7 linked regions of the Homo sapiens genome follow. The protein of the gene in region 3 purifies or fractionates together with the protein of the main gene of each other region. This does not show direct contact. Each region holds a gene or a part of one and is shown on either strand. Other genes may lie near its edges.

The links.
Region 1: the proteins of PTPN14 (region 3) and MAST3 purify together in Homo sapiens (affinity purification with mass spectrometry, with the first as the bait; one large-scale study listed by BioGRID). This does not show direct contact.
Region 2: the proteins of PTPN14 (region 3) and DCLK1 purify together in Homo sapiens (affinity purification with mass spectrometry, with the first as the bait; one large-scale study listed by BioGRID). This does not show direct contact.
Region 4: the proteins of PTPN14 (region 3) and KIF13B purify together in Homo sapiens (affinity purification with mass spectrometry, with the first as the bait; one large-scale study listed by BioGRID). This does not show direct contact.
Region 5: the proteins of PTPN14 (region 3) and KIF2A purify together in Homo sapiens (affinity purification with mass spectrometry, with the first as the bait; one large-scale study listed by BioGRID). This does not show direct contact.
Region 6: the proteins of PTPN14 (region 3) and ANKRD50 purify together in Homo sapiens (affinity purification with mass spectrometry, with the first as the bait; one large-scale study listed by BioGRID). This does not show direct contact.
Region 7: the proteins of PTPN14 (region 3) and CRLF3 purify together in Homo sapiens (affinity purification with mass spectrometry; one large-scale study listed by BioGRID and IntAct). This does not show direct contact.

What each region holds. Positions count from the first base shown.
Region 1 is NC_000019.10:18,096,326-18,100,577, forward strand, and holds the start of MAST3 (microtubule-associated serine/threonine-protein kinase 3), read left to right. Parts: upstream 1-1,452; 5' UTR 1,453-1,467; coding exon 1,468-1,506; intron 1,507-2,429; coding exon of another isoform or gene 2,430-2,440; exon of another isoform or gene 2,441-2,602; intron 2,603-4,252. Other genes in the region: IL12RB1 (interleukin-12 receptor subunit beta-1), read right to left, coding at 2,430-2,440.
Region 2 is NC_000013.11:36,124,883-36,128,382, forward strand, and holds part of DCLK1 (serine/threonine-protein kinase DCLK1), read right to left. Parts: intron 1,275-3,500; 5' UTR 1,256-1,274; coding exon 880-1,255; intron 1-879.
Region 3 is NC_000001.11:214,548,803-214,552,962, reverse strand, and holds the start of PTPN14 (tyrosine-protein phosphatase non-receptor type 14), read left to right. Parts: upstream 1-1,360; 5' UTR 1,361-1,780; exon of another isoform or gene 1,781-2,011; intron 2,012-4,160. UniProt on the Homo sapiens protein: Protein tyrosine phosphatase which may play a role in the regulation of lymphangiogenesis, cell-cell adhesion, cell-matrix adhesion, cell migration, cell growth and also regulates TGF-beta gene expression, thereby modulating epithelial-mesenchymal transition.
Region 4 is NC_000008.11:29,066,778-29,071,070, forward strand, and holds the end of KIF13B (kinesin-like protein KIF13B), read right to left. Parts: intron 3,990-4,293; coding exon 3,727-3,989; 3' UTR 501-3,726; downstream 1-500. UniProt on the Homo sapiens protein: Involved in reorganization of the cortical cytoskeleton. Regulates axon formation by promoting the formation of extra axons. May be functionally important for the intracellular trafficking of MAGUKs and associated protein complexes.
Region 5 is NC_000005.10:62,358,206-62,361,705, forward strand, and holds part of KIF2A (kinesin-like protein KIF2A), read left to right. Parts: coding exon 1-94; intron 95-3,036; coding exon 3,037-3,127; intron 3,128-3,260; coding exon 3,261-3,324; intron 3,325-3,500. UniProt on the Homo sapiens protein: Plus end-directed microtubule-dependent motor required for normal brain development. May regulate microtubule dynamics during axonal growth. Required for normal progression through mitosis. Required for normal congress of chromosomes at the metaphase plate.
Region 6 is NC_000004.12:124,706,233-124,709,732, forward strand, and holds part of ANKRD50 (ankyrin repeat domain-containing protein 50), read right to left. Parts: intron 1-3,500.
Region 7 is NC_000017.11:30,784,439-30,786,692, forward strand, and holds part of CRLF3 (cytokine receptor-like factor 3), read right to left. Parts: intron 1,594-2,254; coding exon 1,481-1,593; intron 455-1,480; exon of another isoform or gene 345-454; intron 6-344; coding exon 1-5. UniProt on the Homo sapiens protein: May play a role in the negative regulation of cell cycle progression.

The sequences.
Region 1 (4,252 bases), on a different chromosome or scaffold from region 3:
AGTAGAACAATTATCTTCAAATATCTGTGAGAGATGGTGTTTATGAGACACTTAGGGCAAAAAGGCAATCATCCTCAAAAAAGAAACTGACAACTGCAGCGGCTACCTGCTTTTGTAAGTAAAGTTTTATTGGCACCAGGGCCAGGATTAAAGGGAGGCAAACAAGGCTGAGTGGTGCAAGGACAAGGGTCTGATCATGTCTTAAGAGTTTTAGTGTTTTGGCCAGGCAAAACACCAAAACTCTTTGGCCTGCAATCCCAGAACTTTGGGAGGCTAAGGTGGGTGAATCACCTGAGGCCAGGAGTTCGAGACAAGCCTGGCCAACATGGTGAGACCTCATCTCTACCAAAAATACAAAAAATCAGCCTGGTGTGGTGGTGGGCACCTGTAGTCCCAGCTACTAGGGAGGCTGAGGCATGAGAATAGCTTGAACCCAGGAGGCAGGGGTTGCCGAGATCATGCCACTGCATTCTAGTCTGGGCAACAGAGAGACTCGTCTCATAAATTAAAAAAAAAAAAAAAAAGTTTTGGTGTTTTGGCCATATGCGGTGGCTGACACCTGTAATCCCAACACTTTGGGAGGCCTAGGCAGAAGGATCTTTTGAGGCCAGGAGTTCAAGACCAGCCTGGGCAACATAGTGAGATCCCCGTCTCTAAAAATAAAATAAAAAATAAAAGTTTTGATGTTTTGTTCATCATAAATGTTTTCATTAATTTTATGTTTTTAAAATATTATTTCTCTTGATGGCTGAGTTTTGTGGGGCCACCTTAAATTTTGCACAGGGGTGAGATCCTCACTCGCCTCACCCTAGAACCCGTTCTGCTGTGTGTACTGGGCACATTTTTTGTTGTTGTTTTGTTTTTGTTTTTGAGACAGAGTCTCGCTCTGTCGCCCAGTCTGGAGTGCAGCGGCGCTATCCCGGCTCACTGTAACCTCCGCCTCTTGGATTCAAGCGATTCTCCTGCCTCAGTCTTCTGAGTAGCTGGGATTACAGGCGCGCGTCACCACCCCCAAGTAATTTTTTTTTTGTTTTGTTTTGGTTTTTTTTGTTTAGTAGAGACAGGGTTTCACCATGTTGGCCAGGGTGATCTCGAACTCCTGACCTCAAGTGATCTGCCCACCTCGGCCTCCCAAAGTGCTGGGATACAGGCGTGAGCCACTGCGCCCGGCCAATGCGCTGGGCATATTGATTAACCTATCTTAGCCTCAGTTTCTTCATCTGCAAAATGGGGCTGAACGATGCTGCCTTACTTCTGAGAGGATTCATGCAAAATATTTACTTCTGCGCTCTGCTGGAGGGGCGGGGCCAGCTCGCCCAGTGGGGGCGGGGCCCTGTGGTCGGGCTCCCCGGGAGGGGCGGGGCCAGGCCGTGTCAGCTGACCGGCCTGGCCAATGGCACCTGGCGGCGGGGCCTGGCAGGCCGGGGCGGGGCCGGGGGCGGGCCTGGCGGCGCGGACTCCCGGGCCATGGACGAGTCGAGCCTCCTGCGGCGCCGCGGGCTCCAGGTGAGGCCCCTGCGCGGGCGGGCGGAAGGCAGAGGGCGCGGCCAAGTGGACGCGGCCTGAAAGGTGCCGGGAGGGGCGGGGCCTTCACGGGCTGTAGGGAAACTGAGGCAGAGGGTGGGGAACGCTCAGATCGCTTCTTTTTGACCACCCGCTTCTCAAAGTGCTTTTTCTCATGGTGGGAAGGGGGAAGGTGCCCCCTTGGACATCTAGGGAAACTGAGGCTCCAAGCGATGGCGTGGGAGGAAGAGGCTGAGGGCTCTGCCCCTCCCCACCAGCTGTTCTAATAATAATGCTAGCAACAGCAGCCAGAGAGCTCACCATATGTTCATGGTTGTTTTAGTCCTATTACTAGCGATGTATTAATATGAGTTCATATGTATTAATACCTCCTTGGGTCGTCGCTGCACCACTGTACACCCTCAGCTCAGCCCTACGACGACCTGGGGAGGTTGGGGCTGTCAGGCGCCCATTTGTCAGAATAAGGAAACTGAGGCTCTAGTCCCGGAAAGCCACTCTCCAGAGGTCGCCTAGCTGGGATTCGATCTGCGCCCTCAACCAGCTCTCTTACGGCACAAGGCGCTGCCAACCAGCAGTGTGACCTGGGGGGAGGGCACCCTTGCTTCTCTGGGCCTCAGTTTTCCAATGAGCCATAGGGTCCTCCTTTTACTGAGTTTATGTTTAGGAGGCTGTGTCATCAGGAGGTAGGGACACAGGCGTCGGGGACAGCAGAAGCCTAAGTTTGAAGCCACACAGGGACTACATGACCCCGGGCAGCCACCCTTTGACTTCTCTGGGCCTCAGTGTCCCCATTATAAGAAAAGAAAAACAGGAATTAAGATTTGGCCATTTTCCTCTGGGACTTAGACCACACCCTTAAGAAGCCACCAAGTTTTCAGGTAGGGAACCTGGGATTCAGCACTTACCCAACGAACATTTATGGAGCGCCTGCTGTGTGCCTGGCTCTGGAGAGGCAGCGGAGTGTTCTGCAACCTCTGGAGCTGCCCTCCTAGAAACCCCAACCTGTTGGGGGAGGTAGACGCCAGAGCAGCGGTGACCCCACGGAGTGATCAGTTGTGATAAGGGACTCACAGCAAGTGAAGGAGGCGCCTGACCCAGTCATTGCTGGGAGCCCTGGGGTAGAGGAGGCAGCCAAGGGTGGCGAGGCATTGCAGCGGGGGGCGGTATTTAGGGAAATGAAAGAGGTTGACAGAAGCTGGAACCTAGGGAGGACTGAGCAGGTGGGGTGGGGGTCGGGGACTGAGGTTAGCTCCGGGCGGGTTGAGGGGGTGAGAGGAATGGGGCCGGCGGGTCTCCAACCTGGAGCCGCACCGGTAGCTGCGGGACTGCGAACTCAGCAGGTGATGGGAAGCCAGGTCGGGAGTGGTCAGGGAAGGCACGGGCTGAGCTGCAGATCAGAGACACCCGGTCTCTGGCCGCGCGGGGGTGGGGCAGAACTGGAGGCGCTGAGGCCAGAGGCAAGAGTGGGGGACTTGGGCGGAAAGGAGGGGGCGGGGCGGGATTGGCGAGCAGCGTGGTGTTGGTGGGGGGGCAGTCCCGCCTCCAGCCCCAGTTAGATGCCAACCCGCCCGCAGCCTCTTAAAATAGAGAAACCGCCTCCGGGTAGGCGAATGGGGGTGCTGCTGACGTCAAGAAGTGGGGCCTGTTCCATGGTGGGGGGGTCAAACATTTCCTGATGGTAAGTTCTATGTTACAAAAGGGGAAACTGAGGTTCAGAGAAGCATAGCCACTGTCCGGGTTTCACAAAGTATAGGTGACAGAGTCAGACAGGATTTGAACCCACGCAGTTCCGGCTTCCTCTCCAAACCAACCCAGCACAGGCGTCCCTCCACGAAGGTGGAGGGATGAGCACGGATTCCCCGACTGAATGAGGGCATTCCGGGCAGAGGCCACAGCACGTGCAAAGGCCCAGAGGCATGTAGCCTTTCTTACCTGTTTATATGGGGAAACAAGAACTTGAACCTATTTCTTAGCACTAGAGGCTGATGGCCAGGACTTAATGCTTCCAGGGCCTTCAGTGCTGATTTTGAAGAGGTTAGACTTTCCCCCTAGGGTGATGGGGAGCTATGGAAGGTGCTGGAGCAGGAGAGGACATGCCCATATTGAGGGGCTGGGAAGACTCCTCTGGAGGGCTAGGAGCAGGAGTGGGGGAATCAAAAAGGGCAGGAAGCCAGGAAGGAGCATGGAATGAAAGTCTAAGTGTACCAGGTGTGGTGGCTCATGACTGTAGTCCCAGCTACTCAAGGAGGCTGAGGCAGAAGGATCTCTCTCTCTCTCTCTTTTTTTTTTTTTTGAGAAAGAATCATGCTCTGTTACCCAGGCTGGAGTCCAGTGGCGCAATCTCGGCTCACTGCAACCTCCACCTCCCGGGTTCAAGTAATTCTCCCTGCCTCAGCCTCCCGAGTAGCTGGGATTACAGGCACATGTCACCACGCCCGGCTAATTTTTGTATTTTTAGTAGAGACGGGGTTTCGCCATGTTGGCCAGGCTGGTATCAAACTCCTGATCTCAGGTGATCCGCCCACCTCGGCCTCCCAAAGTGCTAGAATTACAGGCGTGAGCCACCGCGCCCAGCCAAGAAGGATCTCTTGAGCCCAGGAGTTTGAGGCTATAGTGAGCCATGATCACGAGACCCTATCTCAAAAATAAAAATAAAGGTCCAAGTGGAAGAAGATTAAAATAATAATAAAATAATAGTAAAGTGGGAATAACCGTTCATATTAACAGG
Region 2 (3,500 bases), on a different chromosome or scaffold from region 3:
CTTGGTATACATTTAATCCCAGTCTTTTTTCTCCAACTCATTTTAATTGGCGATGATTTCTAAGGCAATGACAGGCTTTATGCCCTGTTCAAACAGGGTCAGTCCTGAGGCAAGTGTAGCCCAGAGTCGGTGACCTTCTCTGCTTGCATAAGATACCAGGCTGCATCCGTGGACGCAAACAGTCCTATTTCCACATTAAATGTCTAAAACAGATAATGACTATTAACCTAAATTGGACTTAAAAAATTAAACTGAACAGATTAGTCCCTGCATATCCTCAAAAATCAGAGAAAGACAATAATCCTTTAAACTCAAAAGGAAGCATCGCAGTGGAACGAGCTGTCAGAAAACCTGTTTTGGTCCAGGGTCATCACTATCTTACCACGTAACCACCGACATGTCATTTGAATTTTCTGGTCCTTAGACTCCAAAGATAAAATTAATGGGTTTGATAGCTATCTAAGGTTCCTTTCAACTCTAAAATTTCATGATCCATTTGTCATTTTCAATTCAAGTACTTTCGGATATCGTGATAGCAAAAGTTTAATTTGCATTTAGAAACGAATATAAACTATGAGATTGAAGAGATAAAATGGACTTTTAAAATTAATGCAGCATGGGTATGAGAAAGAAAATAGAGAATGCTGTAGAATTAGGGACTTTTTCCCTTAGCACATTATTATAAGCTACCTGACAATACCATTAATTTTTTTTCCTTTTTACTCTACACAATAGCACATTCGTATGTCTGAAACTATAAGGATCACAGCCATAAGGCTGAATGTCAACTGTCAGAGGGCAAATGCGAATCGGCTACAACACTGGAAATCTGAGCCTGGAACCTGTAGGGTCACGTGGGGGTTATCTCACAGCGCTCACCTTCCACCAGTTGGTCCAGGCTGGAAATCTTCTTGAGCCCATCAATGGTGTAGATTGTTCTCACTCCCTGGGGCAAATTCACGTTATCCGACAGAGTTCGGGTCAAATCAGCCAGCAGGGCCTCAAAAGATCGGAACCGGTCTGGGGAGATGGCATACACAATCCCTTTGAAGTATCGATCTCCGTTTCGATAGAAACGAACTTTCTTGGCCTTCTTCTCGGAGCTGAGCGTCTGCAGCGTGCGGGTGCGGTAGAAGCTGCAGTGGGCGCTGTGCGTCGGGCTCGGCAGGCCGTTCACCCGCGACCCTCGGCTGTATCTCTGCGCCTTATCCCGCTCGTCGAAGTGCTCCAGCTCCATGTCTCTGCCGAAGGACATGATGGACTTCAAGTAGGACCTACGAGCCCCAGAAACAAAAGCAGACACACATATTGATGTAGGTTATATATATATATATATTTTTTTGTTTTTGTTTTTTTTATGTTAGGGACAGGGTCCTGCTCTGTCACCGGGCTGCAGTGAGATGGCACTCACTGAAGTACTCACTGAAGCCTCACACTCCTGGGCTCAAATGATCCTCCTGCATCAATCTCCCAGAGTATCCGGGACTACTACAGGTTACAGGTGCCTGCACCACGCCTGGTTAATTTCCTTCATTTTTTGTTCATTTGCTTGTTTTTAGTAGTAGTGATGAGGGTCTTGTTTTATTGTCCTGGCTGGTCTTGAATCCCTGGCCTCAAGTGATCCTCCCCCGCCCCCCAACCCCTTTGGCCTCCCAAAGTTTGGGGATGATGTTATTTTGAGATCATGATTTCAAAGGGTCTGCTTCAGAACAGCTGGGTGGAAATATTGCTTTAACTGATGACACATTTAATATGAGTTATCAAGTGGGACAGAAAGAGAAAGGGATGTGAATTCCCACAAAATAAACACAGGCTCCTCTGCACGCTGTCAGCAGAAGAGGCCGATCCCAGTGGAAACAGCTTATTAATCAGCCACAAATTTGTTAGAAGCAGCTCCTAGGTTGCCCATGGTTCATCAGGCTTCAAACAGATATTATTCCCAATAGACACAACAACTTTCCAAAGTATTGTCCTTCCTTACAAAAGAAGAAACTGAGGCACAGAAAAATTTCCCCTAAATTGCTCCAAGTAATACAGTTGAGAAATGCTTGTACCAGCAACTCTGTTCCAGGTTTCCCTGACTCCAAAGCCCACTGCTCCTTGCAGGGCAGAGGGCTAATCCTGGTAGCAGGAAGAAAATAAGCTCTCATATCATCATACAGTGAAAGAGAAGTAGCTATGGTGGGCTGGGACAGAAAGAGAGGGCAGGCAGCATAACAGTCAGATTGTAAAAGTTTTACATAATGTTTGTGTGCCCCATGGCCAGATGGAGAGCAAATTAAATCAATCTGTAGGTTGGACCAACTTAAAGAAGATTTTCCAACATATTCACACATTCAATATTTTTAAAAGCAAATTCACTATACTTCATTTACTTATATTTAGTACTTCAGAAAAGTTGAGTTTAAAAAAAGAAGAAAAAGGAAGAGAAGGAGGAGAAGGAAGAGGAACAACAAGAAAGGAAAAAATGTTTGGAAGTACATTTCTTGGTTCTTCCTTTCATTAAGACTATCTTTGTGATTGAAGAAATTGAGGCTTAAAGATGTCGATTTACACTTGACCCCATGCTAGCTGTGTAAGCTTGAAAAATCTACTTGCTCAGCATCTTTAAGCCTTGATTTCCTCAACCACAAAATGGGAATGAGAACAGTACCTACCTCACAGTCAGTATTAACTATTAAATAAATTCATGCACATGAAGTTCTTATCATAGTGTCTGACATGTGATAAGTACTAATTTTTTTATTAATAAAATCTGTTTTTGTGTTCCTGGCCCTGACACATAAAGAGCTAGCAGGAATAGAATCTTTCCTTTCTGGCAAGAGAGGCCCCTGCTTTCTTCCTGATCTCCATCTCATGACCTTTTGAAAGGTACATCTGTACCCCCTGGTCCCCACAGCAAGCTGACTGGAGGACCAGTTCATCCTTGCTGAGGGGTTGGTTGATAAAGGTTTGTGGAGCCTTGCAGGGGAATCTGTGGTTTAACAAGACAATCTAGAAAGTGGAAAGACCAAAGCATTCAAAGGAAAGACACTTTAATGACAAAATTTCAGGCATGTTGAAATAGAATATCAGGAAAATGGAAAATTTGGAGCAAGAACCTTACAAGCACTCCCCAAGTCCCACCATATTAGATGGACATCACCTTTCTGAAGGTCAGTGAACACTCACCAATGCACCACTGTCTCCCCAACCTTTCTTTGGCCCTCAGTAAACTGACCTCTGATCCATTCAGAGTGGCTAAAATTTCACACCTGAAAGCATGACTAGAGATTTGGTACTCCAGAAATGAAGTGAAAGAAAGCAATATTTACTGAAGGTCTAGGAGGTACCTGACACTATTACTCATCAACCAGTTGTATAATATGCTAAAAATTCTCTTCTAAACCTCATATTAATCCAACAAGGTAGGTAATATTATTAATATTCAGGTGAATATGGAATTTATCCAGGGTCCCAAAATTATAACTGAGGGGTTGAGATTTGAACCCAGATTTACT
Region 3 (4,160 bases):
CCCGGGCTGGTGTCGAACTTCTGAGCTCAGCCAATCCCCCAGCTTTGGCTTCCCAAAGTGCTGGGATTACAGGTGTGAGCCACCGCGCTTTTTGGTTTCCAATTCTCTTCCCCAAGAGGCCAGGAATTTTTGCATGAGTTGCCGGACACTGAAGTGATTTGGGACAATACATTGTGTGCCAACGACTTCAAGGTCCCTTTTCAACAAAGGACTGGAATCTTACCGAGATAAATCCCAAGACATGTTTGTAGCAATGCAAAGGACCACAGAAATCTAGACAAATTATTTAATTTTGCAGCTACAGAAACCTAGGATCTCAGGGGCTGGGATACTCCTCAGTTATCCAATCGGGCAGGGCCTAAAACCCAGGTTCAGTCGCCTGGCTCCGAGCTTTTTCCATCATACCAGCTGCGTCTCATTAACTCCACCTCCGAAAGTGCTAAGGAAGTTCCCTCCCAGTGCCTACCCAGGCAGGGTGGGGCGATTCTGTGGCATGGAACAAACCGGGAAAACGACATTTTCCAACTCTCAGCACACAGGCTGCTTTTTATCATTCCTACGGGGCGGGAGGGGGCAGGGAGAGAAGGCTAAGACACCGGGTCCAGTACCCAGAGATTCTAGGGAGAGATCTCTGAGATTGCCTACTTGGTGAGGCCACCTTACTTTCTCCTGGTCTGTTTTCCCCTGTGGGGTGGCTGCATGAAACGTCCTGCTTGGAGGGTTCCCCAATATAAGGTGGACTATTCTGAATGTAGGTCGGGGTGAGCAAGTTCCTGCCGCCGCCCCGTCTCTGCGGTCCTCGGAAGTCTAGGTGGGCTCTTCCTTGCCTTGCCTCTTTCTCCCCAACGGCGGGAGCAGCCCAGGGTTGGGGTGGCTGCGGTCGCCTTGCTCTCTCCACTTCCACGTCTCTTACTCCAGGGAGTTTCATCCGGTCCTCCGTCCTCGGCCCCCACCTTTTAAAACATTTTCCAAAACTACCCCATTAAAAGTGTGCGACTTCTCCGGGCCTGCAGAAGGAGCTCCTGCAGCCCGGCATTCCTCGGATTCCAGCGCTGTGACGTCCCCAAGGACGGCGCGCCTCCAGCTCGGGAGCTCGGGAGCTGGGGCTCCACGTTTCAGCGCGCGCCCGCGGCGCCCCCGGCGCGCGCCCTCCCGGGCCGCATTCCTCCCCGCCCCCGGCCGCGCGCCCAGCGCTCCCTCCGCCTCCCGGCCCCCAGGGCCGCGGAGCCCGGCTCTGGGGTGGGGGAGCCGTGGCCGCCGGCGCCTGCTCCGTCCCCTCCCACTCGCACGGCCCCTTCCTCCCTCCTCTCCCGGCCGCTCGCATTTCCTGCCGCTCTGGCTCTCCCGGCCCCTCAAAGTTCTTTCCAACTTTTTCTCGGCGGAGTGAGCGCAGCGGGCGCAGACTCGGGGGCAGGTTGCTGTGCTTCTCCGGGCTCAGCCGCCTGCTCTCCTGGCTCAGGTCCTCGGGGAGCCCTAGACAGACATCAAGTGGCCACTGGCGCTCCTTCCCCTCCCAGCTGAGCCATCCTCCCCGGCCTCCTCGGGCGGGACAGCCCCGTGCTTAGGTTTTTCTCCTTTTCTCCCCCGGTGCGCCTCTGCTCGGACTCTCGCGCCGGGATCGCGGCGGAAACCTCCCTCCCCTTTCGCCTCCTGCGGCTCCTTCCCTTCGCCCCTCCTCCGCCAGTCACTGGAATCAATTCCGTGGGGAATCGGCTCCGCCGCCGCGAAGGACAGCCTTTCCGCGCGGGACTCCGGGGCGCCACGGGGGCCATGTAAGCAGGTAAGCCCCGTCCAAGCCGGGAGTTGGGCCCGAGGTTGGAGGCCGCCTTGGCGCTCCGGGCGCCCTGCAGATGACTTGGGCAGACGCTGGCAACGCCAACTTGCGATTGGCGCCCCGGGACGCCTGGCAGGGCAGCCTGGGGCGCGGGGTGGCCGGGCCGCAGGGGTGTTATCTCGCGGTGGGAGCTGCCCGCGGTGAGGCGCAAAGCTGGTCCCGGGAGCGAGCTGGAAGGTGAGCGCAGTCTGGGGAGTTTGTGGTTAAACCCACACCCTGGTCCCCTCTCTCCATTCCCTTCTGCGTTTTGGGAACGAGAGAGGGCCTCGGAAGGGCAACTAGAGATACCTAGACCTTGGGGGCTAGAGGATGAAAGACGAACGACGTCGCGGTCGCTGCAGCGGTAGGGGGATGCAGCTGCCCGACGCTCCCAATCACACCCCACCACCACCGGGAAGGAATCTTGAGGGGAGCGGAGTTTTCCTGCCCTCTCACTAGGCCCCAGTGGTGCCACCGAACTCCTGGGCGTCGAGGCTCCTACTTGGGTGGTCGAGCTGGCTCGTAGAAAAAAAGCTGTGGCCAAACAATTTCAGATCAGGTCTTCACCTCAAACTTCCAAAGTTGTAGGTATTAACAGCCTCTCCTTCCCCACGTGACCCCCAGATCTCAGGTTTGAATACTTGTAAATGGGGTTTACACCTTTTCGTTTGGAGAGAGCAGTGAGGTAACGCTGCCCCTATCTCCCTTTCCCTCTCACTTCCTTGGGTTCTTGTTCTCCAACCTTCTCATCCCCACCTACAATTTCAGAAATTGTGGGGTTTCCGCTTAAGTCTAGGGACTGGCTGTCGCAGGTTCTTTGTGAAGGTGAGGAATCTCTAGACTGCAGGTGCGGGCAGTTACAGAGTTTCCACCAATGTGTTAACTTCTTGAAATGGATTAGTTTACTCATTCATCCAACAAACCCAGCTTCTACTCTGCTAGGAACAGGATAGAAAGATGCTAAATGAGATCACAGGGCAGGAGTCTGCAGCCTAGTGGAGGAAACTTGAAGGCCGGTGAAGAATGATAATACATGGAAGAGGGGTTCTGTGAGAGTCTGAGGCGAGCTTGGTCCTGGTGAAGGGTGCACTACACTTAGAGGATAGAGGTTGTGCTCCTCTGGAGGGTGTATTCCAGGCAGAGGAAACAGCTCGTGCAGAGTGAACACAAGAAGGACAGAAAGTTTCCCTAGCCATCTGGGGGCCTGAGGGGCATTTATGGCCATGTTGGTGCAGTGTTGCTGGGATAGCATTCTCTCCACCCCCAATATCAGAAATAAATCTAGAAGCACGTTAGCCACTTATGGGAACCACAAGTAGCTTACCGAGGAGCCAAGGCCTCCCTAATTGGATACACCTCCATGCCTGCTGCTGTTTTACCACAAGCAGCTGTTGTATGATCATCTACATTTTAATTGGCCCATGCTCGGTTTCATTAAAATGGTATTGATTCTTCTTTTTTGTCCCCCACATTCAAGCAATGATTCCTTTTTTAAAAAGGCTGTTTGACAGCCGTAGGTGTGGTAATACCGCAGCATTACGGACCTTGTATTATAAAGTTAGCTAATTGTTTGGTGATGAGGTTGAAGCTTGTGCCATAGAAATGACAGCCTTAATGAGCGGGAGCTGAATGGCATGATGCCCTTTTTGCCCAGTCTGAATGGGTGGCCATGAGGTGCAAAATTCGTTCATCTGTATGTCACTAAGTTTGTTATACTTTTCTCTGCTTTTAAGTCATTACTATTGCTTTAGCACAGTTGTGCTAAAGTCGTTCTTTTCTCTGAAACTTTATGAAAATAGAAAACACTATCTTGCACATTTTTGTAGACTAATGGCCCAGGATTCAGCAAATCCTGCCTAGAAAAGTTTCTTACAATGCAGTAGCATTCTGTACGTGGTTTGCCTTTCAAGGGTGTCTCTTCACTGGACTGAAGTGGTGTTGTAGTATTGTTCATAGTGGCTGAGTCCTGGCTGAGGTGGCAGACATCCAGCTTTTGGTGACCTCAGGCCAGTACATCAGAGTGGGAAGAACACACTGACTTCCTACAACTTTGGGTGTTTATCCAAGCCCCTCTACCAGCATCTTTTCTTATCTCAGGAACAGCCCCTTCACAGAAGTTTTCCTGAAGGTGTAGGGACCTGCATGAGAGAAATGGCTGAAGAGAAGCCCACTCCCACTAATCCCAGACATTTGCCCAGTTTCCATCATTGGCTTAAACATGTAATTATTATTAACACTTGAGTTATTCAGATTTGTGCATACTGTGTCATGCTGGTAGCTGTAATAGAAAGGACAGTTAGGCTTTTAATAGGGAAGCACCATAAGGAATTCAGAGAAAAATCAGAAT
Region 4 (4,293 bases), on a different chromosome or scaffold from region 3:
TGCCCACCTCTGCAGCAGGGGAAAGAAGTCCTCTCACCCCAGTTTGAGGGGAGAGGGGAGGTCCAGTGTGGGGACCAACACGAAGGTCACAGCAGACAGTGGAGTCATGCCTGAGAGCCAAGGAGAGTCCCTACCAGGTCACCTGTCTCCCAGTAGCACCACTTACCTGGGGTCGAAGGGCCCCAGAAAGTTTCCATGGTTCCTGGCTTCAGTAAGGGGCTGAAGTCCAAACAAGGAAAGATGACTCAGAACCGGGGGGCCTCCTGGGCTCTTAAGTCCAAATCATGAAGAGTTCAGCCTCTGAAGTCCATGGGCTGGGGAGGCGAGCACGGCCTGCTGCTGTTCCCTGATCCTCCTCCTCCCAGTCTCAGTCTGGAAAAGCCCCGCACCACCTTTGCTGAGAACAAGGCCACACCATGACAGGATGGCCTGCCAGGAGCCCCAAAACCCTATGTTGGGGTGAGGGGAAGGAGAAGCAACAAGACTGGCCTCAGACATGATGCAGGTGAGAAATGGTCTGGTTTTATTGAGAAGCTGTTGGTCATTTGATGGAAAGACACATACGGTACAAAATTACAGGTGGTTTAGTTCATTACATGATACAAATCATTAGAGTCTTTACAAGTCATTAGAGTCTTTGGATTTTTTAAACTCCCATTTACTGTGTACCAAATCAATATAATCACAGAATCAAAGTCACTTCTTTATATGTGAACTCTTCGCATTTACACGAATCCACACATAGAGAAGCTGTTCCAAGACCCCCCAACACCATTAGTGTCTGCAGCCCACCAGGAAGGCACCACGGACTTTGTGGAGAGAAAGATGCTTTGGGGGTTCAATGGGTCAGTATCTTGGGCAGGAAGCACAGGGTGACTCCCGTCTTGTGTGCGTGCGCACAGCCACCAACACACACTCTCAGGACTTCCCGTTTCACATACAGGGAACTTTTAAGGCAAGAGGAGAAAATGCTAGGAAGTAACGGGGGATCAGAACTCCTCCACCTCTCAGGCTCCAGCAGTCACATTCCCAGCTCCGTTCTCTTGTTGAACCTTGGTAGGCCCAGAAACATCTTCCCCCTCCTCACCTCTGCCCTCCCGCTCCCTCTGGTCAGGCCTGGGTACCCAGGAACCCAGTCACACACCTGCCCCCTGTCCCCTCTGCTGCTGGACGCAGTGCCCGGGGCAGAAGTGAGCCTTCTCACCCTGGAGCCTCAGTCCTTCATAAGGGCCCGAGGGAAGTGGCGGGGTGGGGCCAGGGATGTTCTGGGCACACAATGGGGAGGCAGGGCCCCCAGAAGCATCCCCCACCCCCATCTCTGACAGCGCCGCGTGTGCAGTTACTGCCCTTCCCGGCCTTGGGTGCCATCTGCGGGCCGACCCACACTAAGGTGCCACTCCTGGGGCCTTCCAGGAGCGCATCGGGAGTCCTAAGGCGGGTGGGCGGGCAGGCGTTCTTGGGAGGTGAGTCTGCTGGTCAGGGAGGCAAGAAAAGAAGATAGAAGACGGAGGCCAGCCCGCCCTGGCCCACCACTCTGGAGACCGCACCTCCTGCCTGCCAAGTGCTGGCCCGGGGTCAGCGGGGCTCACTGCCTTGGTGACCACGTCACTGCACATCCCTCTTTCCCAGCCACAAGCTGACATTAGTCCGCACCGAGAAGCAAGAGTGAACAGGGCCTGGGCCCAAATCCACCTGCTCAAGTCAGGAACTCTGGCTCGTTCTACTCCACTGTAAGTCAAACCGATGGTAAAAAGCACGACACACACGTCCCCCAGGACTTTCCCAAGATGGTGCTACAGGAGGCCGCTGCTGGGTGGATGGCTCAGCCACCACGAAGTGCCAGGTCCCACCCACGCTGCCCGTCCGCCACCATTCCCAGAGCGTCCCCACTACACGGCCCAGGCGTTTCCCCTCAGGGCAGCAGCAGTGCTGGCCTCTCACCCAGGCCATAGTGACACCAGCGGACCCAAAAACAAACTTCTCAGTGAAACAGGTTTTAAAAAGAAAGCCGCTGTGCTGGGAAGCGGGTTGAGTTAAAGGGCAAGGCAGAGGTGACAGCTCTTCATCCAGGGACAGGTGCCACAGGGTTCCCTCAAAATCGGCTAAGGACAGGGAGAGCCCTGGAGGAGTGCCTCCCCCCAGGGGCCGGGCCCTCTGCCAGCCCGGCCGCAGCCTTCGTGTCCCTCGCCAACTGGGGAGAGAAAGACAACCTGTCCTCGCAGCCAGGGCTGGGACAGGCCCACCATGGAGACTACTCTGTTGGCGCCTTCAAGTCCCTAGAGAACCAGAGCCTTCCGCAGCGCTTTCTAGATGTTGACTAAATGTGAGAACTAGAAACCAGCTCCAAGGGTGGCTGTGTGAATCTTGACCCAGGACTCCTGTCCCTAGATTGGTGGCCTTCCACACATAGACGCTAACCCCCATCCCACAAACCTGGCACCAAAGGCTCTGGGAGCATAAGTGCCCCAGCCAGGAGGTGGAGGCCACCCCGGAAGCTTCCGGCTGTCCCGCCCACACCATGCACGGTGGGCCTGGGGGCGTGGCTGCTGTGAGGGTCTGGAGACTAACCAGCACACTCCCTGCACCAGCCCAGCCGCCAGGCCCCAGCCCCACACTCTGAGAGTCTGGGAGTTGCCGAGAAGTTAAAATGACCCAAAGACCTTCCTAGAAACCAAAAGTGCACCAAATAAAGTAGCAATGCCTCTTCCTTTGTCACCGACTACAGAAGCACATCATTCTCCCAGGTTTTTGCTCTCATCCAAGTTAAGAGTAAGGCCACTGTGGATCCGCAATAGAGGGATGTGAGGAGGGGGCTTTATCCTCTGCCGTCCCCAGGACCCTCCACCTGGGCAGGAGGCCAGCAGCTCTGCAATGGCCAGAGAGGCTGCAACGTGCAAGGCAGGCCCTGGGCCCCCCCACACAGGCAGACGACGATTGCGGCTCGCAAATGATTTCGGATTTTGAAAAAATAAATATAAATAAATACATTCCAAGCCTTCTGTGAAGGGAATAAACGGCAAACATAAGAGACTTTCCAGGTGTCTAAAGATGCCAAAACATCCACAGAGAAACCGCTAAGAAACCCTGGCAGAGGAGGGATGGGGGGGCTCAGGCCCTCGGCCCCCGTCTGGGGCACCAGGACCATCTGCCAGAGCCCAGGGCCCTCCAGAGGCACTTGTGGAACCTGGGACCAGGGTGGGAGGCTGGGGGGTCCCCCAGAGGCACTTTGCGGGAAACTGGGACCAGGGTGGGAGGCTGGGGGGCTTGCGGAGTGAGCCAGGACATCCTGGGTGGGTGGGGGGGCTTGCCCTCCAGTGGGGAGGAAAGGCACTGGTTACAATTATGGTTTAGGTTAAGACATTAGTGGGGCCACCAGAATGGAAATGATAGAAAGAGCAACATAAGGCCCCAGGCACAGGCACACAGCAAGATCACCAGGCGCTGCACCACCCAGGGTCTCAGTCCTAGCATCCCCCAGCCCCTGCGGGCACCCAGAACCTTCCATCCACCTGAGGAGGCACAGTTGAGGCCCCCACTTTACCCGGGTACAGAAGAAACAAAGCTTCCAGAGGCCCAGGGAGGTCACCAGCCCTGTGTCGTGCAAAAAGCATTCATCGCCCTGCCCCTGGGGAAGGGGCCACCGGGCTCCTGGCTCCTCAGGGCTGTCACTGGCAGGGCTCAAAAGGGGCCGGGCACCCCCAGAAAAGTTCGCCCTAAGGCAGCGGCTCAGCTGGCCCAGGATTTCCGGTTCTCAGGGTTCTTGTGGCTCCTGTCGGCCTTGGCCAGGGCAGCTGTCAGCGAGGCCAGGTTGGTGGCGGAGCCCGAGAGGGTGGCGCTCCGGCGGGCCTCGGGGGCACCCAGCCGGAGTCCTGTGCTGCGCCGCCGCACAGGGCCCGTGGCCCTGCGGACCCGGCTGGGCCTGACCAGCAGCCCGTAGCCAGGGTTACACCTGAAGTACTGCTTCCCGCCGATGGAACCGTCATTCTTACCTGCGGGGGAAGGAGAGGGTGATATGGAGGGCAGCCGAGCTGCAGACGGCCCCCTGCACCTCCCTTACCTCTGCAGAGGCCATGTGCCCACACTGCCACCCCCCCGCACAGGCCCTACACAGCCAGCACTCGGACACTGGCCATTGTCTGGCAGGGACTGGCTAAATGAATGTGGCCAGGGCCTGGGGTGACCGCCTCCCAGGACAGTGAGCAGTGGTGACCAAGGATGCACAGCCCCAGTCCTGCAGCCTCAGGTAGGAGGTGACAGGCCCTGGGGGCCCTGGGGAGTGCCTTGTGGAAGCAT
Region 5 (3,500 bases), on a different chromosome or scaffold from region 3:
AACAAAAAGTAGATTTAACAAGGTACCTAGAAAACCAAACATTTCGTTTTGATTATGCCTTTGATGACTCAGCTCCTAATGAAATGGTTTACAGGTAGGTAAATTCATTTTAAATCAGAATTTTGTTCTTATGCCATGTGGTCATCAGCACCTTGAAATTTACATTGATTGTGGGATATTTCTTAAGAGGTGCAATATGCTGTTTTATTCTGAGTTTAAACAAAGAGAATGTAATAAATGCTGTAATGAATATTAACACTTGTTCTCTGTAATGCTCCCCAAAATCATAGTTTCCATTACTATTTGCTAATTAGCTTATTACACATATATATACATATATATACATATCACACAAACCATGTATATGGATAAGAAATTTCGGGAAAATGTTAACATTACCTCTAGGAATAGGATATGATAAGAAGACTTTTAATTTTTACCTTTTAATCTCTGTACTAATAAAGAAACTTGAAATGTTTGTTTGAGGCATGGTCTTGCTCTGTTGCCCAGGCTGGAGTGCAGTGGCACGATCACAGCTCACTGCAGCCTCGACCTTCCAGGCTCAGGTGATCCTCCCATCTCAGCCTCCTGAGTAGCTGGGACCACAGGCATGCACCACCACACCCAGCTAATTTTTGTACTTTTTGTAGAGTTGAGGTTTCGCCATGTTGCCCAGGCTAACCTCAGACTCCTGAGCTCAAGTGATCTGCCCGCCTTGGCTTCCCAAAGTGCTGGGATTACAGGCATGAGCCACTGTTATGCCTGGCCAAAATACCTGTTATCAGTTAATTATTAATTTATCTAAATCTGTATTTAGTATGTATTGTCACTTAAGGCGAAAAAGTTCCGTACTTGTATTTAAATTTGTCATCTTTAAGCTTGGAGATAGTTTTAGTACATGAGATTCTTGTATGTTTTCTGTATTCAACTTAAAAATAATTCAAATTTATCTGTGTTATACATTGGTATCTCAAATTTTTATGCCAGATTTAGATTTTCATACGTAAGTTTGCAAACATTCATTTCTAATAATTATAACACCAGTTTTAGCAGTATTGTTATTTTGGTTTATCTAGGAATATTACTGTCTTTGTAATTGCTTGAATACTATATCTGATTGCCCTTTTTCATAAAAATGCCTAGAAAGGAAAAAATTAGAGTTAATGAGACTAAGAATTGAAGGTGTTACAAAGGAAATACTTTTGAGACCAACTCTTTTTGTCTTCACCAAGTGTACTGGGTAGTCAGTTGTAAAAAAAAAAAGGATCAAATTAAAGGACATATGAATACTAGATAGAGATATTTGTGAAGAATATGTTTAAAGGGGAATCATAATTGTTAATTGTAGAATTTTTTTTTAGCTTTCTGAAGAGTCCACTTTTCCTTTTCATTCCCTCTTTCTACTCCTGCCTCATAAAATATAAGTTTGACTTTTATAATAGTTTTTAAGAAATTATTACAAATACAGGCATGTTTCTGTGTGTATGATTTAGTAAACATTGTGTTTTTACCCTATGTTTATGTTTCTTAACTTTATCAATATTTATCCTTCTCCTCTATCTCTTATACTTAACTATTATGGATTGAGGAGTTACATGTTTTTTTGTGGGTAGGGTTGGGAGGTAGGGGTTTGATCTACTTAGCAGGCTCATCCCTAGTTCTGTTTGACCAGAACTTTTTCCTGCTCCTTTTGTTCTGTACTTTCTTCAGTTTTGCCTTTTACAAAACAAAACAAAGACAGCAGTTATATAAAATGTTCTACTTGTAGATCTGTTTTCCATCTTTTTTTTTTTTTGTTTTTTTGAGGCTGAGTTTTGCTCTTGTCGCCCAGGCTGGAGTGCAGTGGCATGATCTCGGCTCACTGCAACCTCTGCCTCCCAGTTCAAGCGATTCTCCTGCCTCAGCCTCCTGAGTAGCTGGGATTACAGGCGTGTGCCACCACGTTCAGCTAATTTTGTATTTTTAGTAGAGACGGGGTTTCACCATGTTGGTCAGGCCGGTCTCGAACTCCTGACCTCAAGTGATCCACCCACCTCAGCCTCCCAAAGTGTTGGGATTACAGGCATGAGCCACCACGCCTGGCCTCCATCATACTTTTTAGTGTACTGCTCAGGGGAAAAGTACTTCTTATACCTTCCCACCTTTTTATTTTAACTCTAGCAGTGGGTTATACCAATACATTTGAAATATAATTCAAGGCCGGGTGCGGTGGCTCATGCCTGTAATCCCAGCACTTTGGGAGGCCAAGGCGGGCAGATCGCCTGTGGTCAGGAGTTTGAGACCAGCCTGACCAACGTGGTGAAACCACGTCTCTACTAAAAATACAGAAATTAGCTGGGTGTGGTGGCAGGTGCCTGTAATCCCAGCTACTCGGGAGGCTGAGGCAGGAGAATCACTTGAACCCGGGAGGCGGAGGTTGCAGTGAGCTGAGATCGCGCCATTTGCACTCCAGCCTGGGGGACGAGAACGAGACTTCGTCTCAAAAAAAAAAAAATGTAATTCAAACCATAATATTTAGGTATCCTTTTCCTAAATTGAGAGTGTCAACTTACTAATAGAATTCATTTTCCTACAAGCACAATTTATATTCTTTTTGCTTAAGTATAAATTACTTGTCTAAATTCAAGGTAATCAACATTTTTCTATTTATTTAGATGGTCTATAGATAATATTTTTGCAGTTTTTTTCCTCTATTAACTTTTTAAAATTGAGATTACCACTCTTGTTTATTCTGTTTCTGTTGAAATTATAATACTTTGTGTTTGTTTTTATTGTATATGCCTTATTGTGACCATTATTTATTATGGAAATATTGCTTGAAATTATGCTTTAAGTAGTTTAAGTAATTTTAGCATATGATATTTAAAATTCTTAAATCAATTCTTCGATATTGTTATTTAAAATTTTTAACAAAGATTTGTTTAGAATCTTGCTATTAAGTTTTATTTATTAATAAAATACTTTGTATTACTCAGCATTACTATTATTCATCAAAATATTGGTGACACATTCTGACTGATGCATTTTATTTTTAAGGTTTACTGCTAGACCACTAGTGGAAACTATATTTGAAAGGGGAATGGCTACATGCTTTGCTTATGGGCAGACTGGAAGTGGAAAAACTCATGTAAGTAATTTATTAAAGTTACATTCTGGTACGAAGCTACAGTTTCTTTTCCTTATAGCTTAATTCTGTGAACTAAATTCTTAAGAGTTATTCCTGAGTAATGTCTGTTCTTTATTTTCTTTTTAAAATATAGACTATGGGTGGTGACTTTTCAGGAAAGAACCAAGATTGTTCTAAAGGAATTTATGCATTAGCAGGTAACTGTCCTTTTTCCATAAAATTTGGAATATTCTTCTGTGGTATTATTCAGGTAACTTTGAAATAAGGCTTTAAAATATTGTTCAGCAACTATAATGCTATATTAACTGTCTATTATGTCAATTATAGGTTATTAGATTGCTTGAAAAGAACTATAAGATTATATATTCACAAT
Region 6 (3,500 bases), on a different chromosome or scaffold from region 3:
ACGCAAATGAACTATGCTTCAAACGGAGAACACTCTCATTATTTGTCATACAAATAAATGAATGTCAGAAGAAATTTCGTGACAACTATATCTAAAAAACTATAGAATATACTATACCATGTCAGAAGGGAAGAAAGTGGCAATGTTTCACTAGATTAAGATGAAGTTCCTTTCACTCTTCCTTAATTATTATGAACTAGTAATTAACAAATTACGATTTAGCCATATAATTTCATGTATCACGTATTCTATCTACTATCATTAGGCACAAAAAAAATTAAAGAAAGCTAAGAAGCAAACTGAAGAAAAGATAAGTGGATTTAAAAAGCATCAAGTAAATCACTTCTCTGCAATTTCCCCAGCTTTGTGAATCTGTGAATAACTGAGATTTTTTCATTATCAACTTTCTATAACTATTAAAATTGTTTCACACATGAATACGGATGCTCCTTAACCTATGATAGGATTACACCCTGATAAATCCATTATATGTTGAAAATATCTTAAGTCAAAAATGCATCTGATAACTCTCAACCTACCAAACATCATCGCTTAGCCTACCCTACCTTAAGCATGCTCAGAATACTTACATTAGTCTACACTTGAGCAAAAGTATCTAACACAAAGTTTATTTTATAATGAAGTGTTGAATATATCATGTAATTTATTGAATACTATATTGAAAGTAAAAAACAGAACAGTTGTATGGGTACTCAAAGTAAGGTTTCTACTAAATACATATTGCTTTCTCACCATCCTAAAGTCAAAGAATCTTAAGTTGAACTATTATAAATTGGGAAAAGTCTGTATATGAAACCATCAATATTAGCAGAAATTTAAAGGTTAAAAAGTAATAATGCAAAAACTGGTTTTGGATTTAGTTTTTGTCAAAAGCGAAAAATAAATATTTTCCTGCTGTTTGCTTACATTTATATTTAATCTCCTGTCATGTTATAATTAGCTACTTCCATTTCCATTTCCCTCAAAATATTGTAACTCTTTGGAAACAATGGTTTTCAGCCCCATTTTCCACCTGTTGAATTATATCTATCCATGCCTAAATAAAATACGTTCCTATTAAAATTCTCTAAAGGACTTATTTAAGAAATCTGTCAATCAATAATAGAACCTACAATAAAATCTTGAATTATTTGTCCAAAAGTAGAAGCCTAGATAATGTAATATCACATACCAAACAAAAATACATCTTTTTAACTTTGAATTGTGCTCTCAGGTTTGCAAGTGAATATAGCTGTATTATAGCTTCACAGTTGTAATGGAAATGTGTCTCTATGAATGATCAAAAAGAGTGTTTCAATACCATAGTTCCCTAATTAATATCATGATCAATTACTTTAACGATGAAGAAAGAAAGTGACTCAGGTTTTTGAAAAGTCCAGTAAGAAATCAGTGAAGAGCACCAAAATGGTCCAAGTAGAAAGACTAAAGCCTTCTCTTTTATTAAAGTGTAAACTGGGAATGCAAAGTGATTGGCTCCTTCTGTCAATCAGAAAAGCAGGGCTGGTATGGTTTTTACACACAGCTCTAATTGCTTCTTCTTCCTCTTCAATTAGCTAATAACTGAGAATCACACAGGAAAAAGAAAAAATAAAAGAAACAATTGAATAAAAGAATTATTTTTCAGGAAAATCTATGATACCATAGAGAAAGCTATGCTTAGGATCAGAATATATCAAAAATACAGTAATCAGACATGATTTTTAAACATTCAACATTCAGGTATCAGAAATTTACATATGAATTTCAATAAATTATAAATTACATACCTTGGTTACATCAGATTAAGTTCACCTCAGACTAAGCTCTTTGAAAGTTATTGGTAGGTGTCAATAAACCTAAATAGCTTATGAAATTACTTATCACAAAGAAATGAAAATTCTGCTCTGCCACTAGTATCTTCAGAAAAAGCAGTAAGAAGAAAAGAGTTGCTTATGTACAGTTTTAATTCTATTAAAAGGTATAGTTTTATATTAAAGACTACATTATTTATTCTGTACAGTGATTCCATATTGAACACTCTCCATCAAACCTTGCATCTCACATGCCACAGGCATCAACTAACAGATTTCCTCATTAATTTAAGAATGATACAACAGTTTTAACGCTGACTTTGATGGCTAACAACAAAAGATAATAGATTTGCCTTTAGTTTTATTGGACTAAATTTACATATTAAAGAGTCTACAAGAATATCACACCTCTCAAAGATACATCCCTTTGGCTGACTTTAATAAATTCCTCCCATATTTGAATTCTGTACCATCCCTAACTCTCATTCTAGAATACCACTCCCTCTATCACTATATGGGTAATCTGAAAACCACACTCAAACCACACTGTGACACAACTCCTGTTCTCCAGCTTTGCCATACATAACCTTCTAAACCCCTCCTCTTCCCATCAAGTCCCCCAGAGAATTTCTAAGATTACTAACACATACACACACACACACACACACACACACACATACACACACACACATTTAAAATCTCAGCCCTGCCATTTACTAGTCTGTAACCTTGAACAATTTATTTAGCCTCTCTGTACCTTAGTTTCCTCATCTATAAAATGGGAGTAGTAACTACCTCACAGGATTATTATGAGGATTAAATGATCTAATATTTGTAAAGCACTTAGAATAATGACTGACACTTACTGTTTACTGTAATTACTATTAAATATTTTCAATATTACTTTCAAAATGTATAGATTTCACCCCATTAGATTTGAGGATATCATAAAAACAAACATCACTCTTTTTAGAGTGATTCAAATCTCTCCTAGAAACACACTCAAGCAGAAGAGAGCCACACACACACACACACACAAACCTCCAGTGCACAGTATACCAGAATCTTTGGAGAACAAACTTTTGCCCGCTAAGAATGTTATTGTAGAGAAAAAGCTTATGGCAAAATGGGTAATTCAAGCAGAAGTGAAGCACAAACTAACAATTTGCCTGCTACTTTTACAATGAGCAGAGGCATGATATGCAAAAAAAAATGTTTTCAAGGAATTATATTTTCTTGAACAGATTTGAATCTGAAACCACTCTGGAAAGCAACTTGCTCACTTCCTGGACCAATCCATTTACCATGGAAAAAAAGCTTTGCTGAAGTTAGGAAAAAACACTTTCTTTGTACCACTCACTAAAAGTAAAAGTAGTAAGATGATCCCAAATGTTCGCTATTTTATAAATTCACATACTTCTAAATACCAGTTTTTCAATTAGTTAGTTAATAGGAGAATAAATCCCAAAACTCATCAGCAAATTTTCTTCAGATTCTCAGTGGCCAATAATCTCCTTTAAAGAAAACCTTTCTTACTTAAAAAAATACTACTACTATAAGGAAAAAAATAAAAAGATACTAGATGCTATACTGATAATTACTCTAAGTTCAGTTCACCCTCTGAAAATGTAACCTATTTCCAGACAGCTAAATGTGCTTCTCTACCATAAGAACAAATTTCCCTTACCA
Region 7 (2,254 bases), on a different chromosome or scaffold from region 3:
TGCACCTAAAATGTTAAGGTAAAGAGTCATTTACATGTGAGCAATAACTAAGAGATCTGAAATAGTTTCTAGATTACTGGTAACACAGCTCATTTCCTAATTCAGATTTTAAAAAATCTGGAATGCCAACTGGACATAGATTTTAGAGTTCTGTCCAGGGTTGTACTCTTCCAGCAGAGACTATGAGTTTCCCATATCAGTGTCATCAAAAGAAACTTGACAGTGTTACAAAATTACCTCCTGTGAAATAGCAAGACTATTTCTTATGGAATAAACAAGAAAGAATCTTGTTCTACCGAATTCTTGACTCACCAACACAATTTTTTTTTTTTTTTTGGAGACAGAGTTTCACTCTTGTTGCCCAGGCTGGAGTGCAGTGGCATGATCTGGACTCACTGCAACCTCCACCTCCCAGGTTTAAGCAGTTCTCCTGCCTGAGCCTCTCGGATTACAGGTATGTACCACCACGCCCAGCTAATTTTTGTATTTGTAGTGGAGACAGGGTTTCACCATGTTGGCCAGGATGGTCTCGATCTCTTGACCTTGTGATCCACCCACCTTGGCCTCCCAAAGTGCTAGGATTACAGGCGTGAGCCACCGTGCCCAGCCAACACCACAAAATATTATTAACATGTCTTGCTAGTGAATTTTTTTTTTTTTTTTTTTTTTTGAGACGGAGTCTCACACTGTTACCTGGCATGATCTCGGCTCACTGCAACCTCCGCCTCCCGGGTTCAAGCGATTTTCCTACCTCAGCCTCCCAAGTAGCTAGGATTACAGGCACCCGCCACCACACCTGGCTAATTTTCTGTATTTTTAGTAGAGACAGGGTTTCACTATGTTGGCCGGGCTGGTCTTGAACTCCTGACCTCGTGATTTGCCCGCCTTGGCCTCCCAAAGTGCTGGGATTAGAGGCGTGATCCACCGCGCCCGGCCTCTGGCTAGCGATTTTTAAAGAGCACTAGGGATGTAGACTGAATGATTTATTATTTGTAGAATTTAGAACAATGCCTGGTACATGGTAGTCACATAAATTATGTCATTAAGACCAAAACTTTCAGCCAGCCACGGTGGCTCACGCCTGTAATCCCAGCACTTTGGGAGGCCACCAAGGTGGGAGGATTGCTGGAAACCAGGAGTCAAGACTCACCTGGGCAACAACTTATCTTTACAAAAAAGTAAAAATAAAAAAAATTAGCCAGTCACAGTGGCATGCACCTGTAGTCCCGGCTACTCAGGAGGCTGAAGTGGGAGGATGGCTTGGGCCCAAGAATTTCAGGCTGCAGCGGGCTACGATCATGCCACTGTACTCCAGCCTGAGTGATGGAGTGAGACTTCATAATAAAAAAAAAAAAAAAGAAAAAGAAAAATACCTAAATTTTCTCATCTCCTACTATAAATGTATGGAACTGGAACAGATTCACATATTACTAAAATAATTAATATATTTCCAAGAGAATGACAGTTATTTATCTCTTACCATTTGTACTAATGCACACAGCTTGATCCCGCTGCAGAGAGTCATATCCATCCTGTTTTTCTGCACACACTCCTATGCTATCTCTTCTGTCTGGCTGTCCCACAGTTTCAACTCTGTAAATGAAGTAGAAAGGTCATTTCATACTTTTAAAAATATAACATGAATGATACTTAACAGCCACTAGCTTAAAAAGAGCAATCTCACCACAATTGTTTTTTTCTAAATAGTACAGCAACCATGATTGAGTTCTTGCTATACTCCAGGCACTGTTCTAATTATTTTATATCTATCTATCATTCTTACAACAATCTATGAGGTAGGTGCTTTTTCTTTTTTGTTGAGACGGAGTCTCGCTCTGTCACCCAGGCTGAAGTGCGGTGGTGCGACCTTGGCTCACTGCAACCTCCGCCTCCCGGGTTCAAGCAGTTCTCTGCTTCAGCGTCCCAAGTAGCTAGGATTACAGGTGCCCGCCACCATACCCGGCTAAGTTTTCTATTTTTAATAGAGATGGGGTTTCACCATCTTGGCCAAGCTGGTCTTGAACTCCTGACCTTGTGATCCACCCACCTCGGCCTCCCAAAGTGCTGGGATTACAGGCGTGAGCCACTGCGTCCAGCCGGTAGGTGCTATTTTTAACATACCCATTTTATAAGTGAGGAAAATGAGGCACGAAAAGAAAAAAAGATTAAAAATAGCTAAATAACCTGATCCCGACTACCTGGCTGATGACTGGTGGAACCAGGACTCAAACACAGGCATTCTGACTCTAGAATC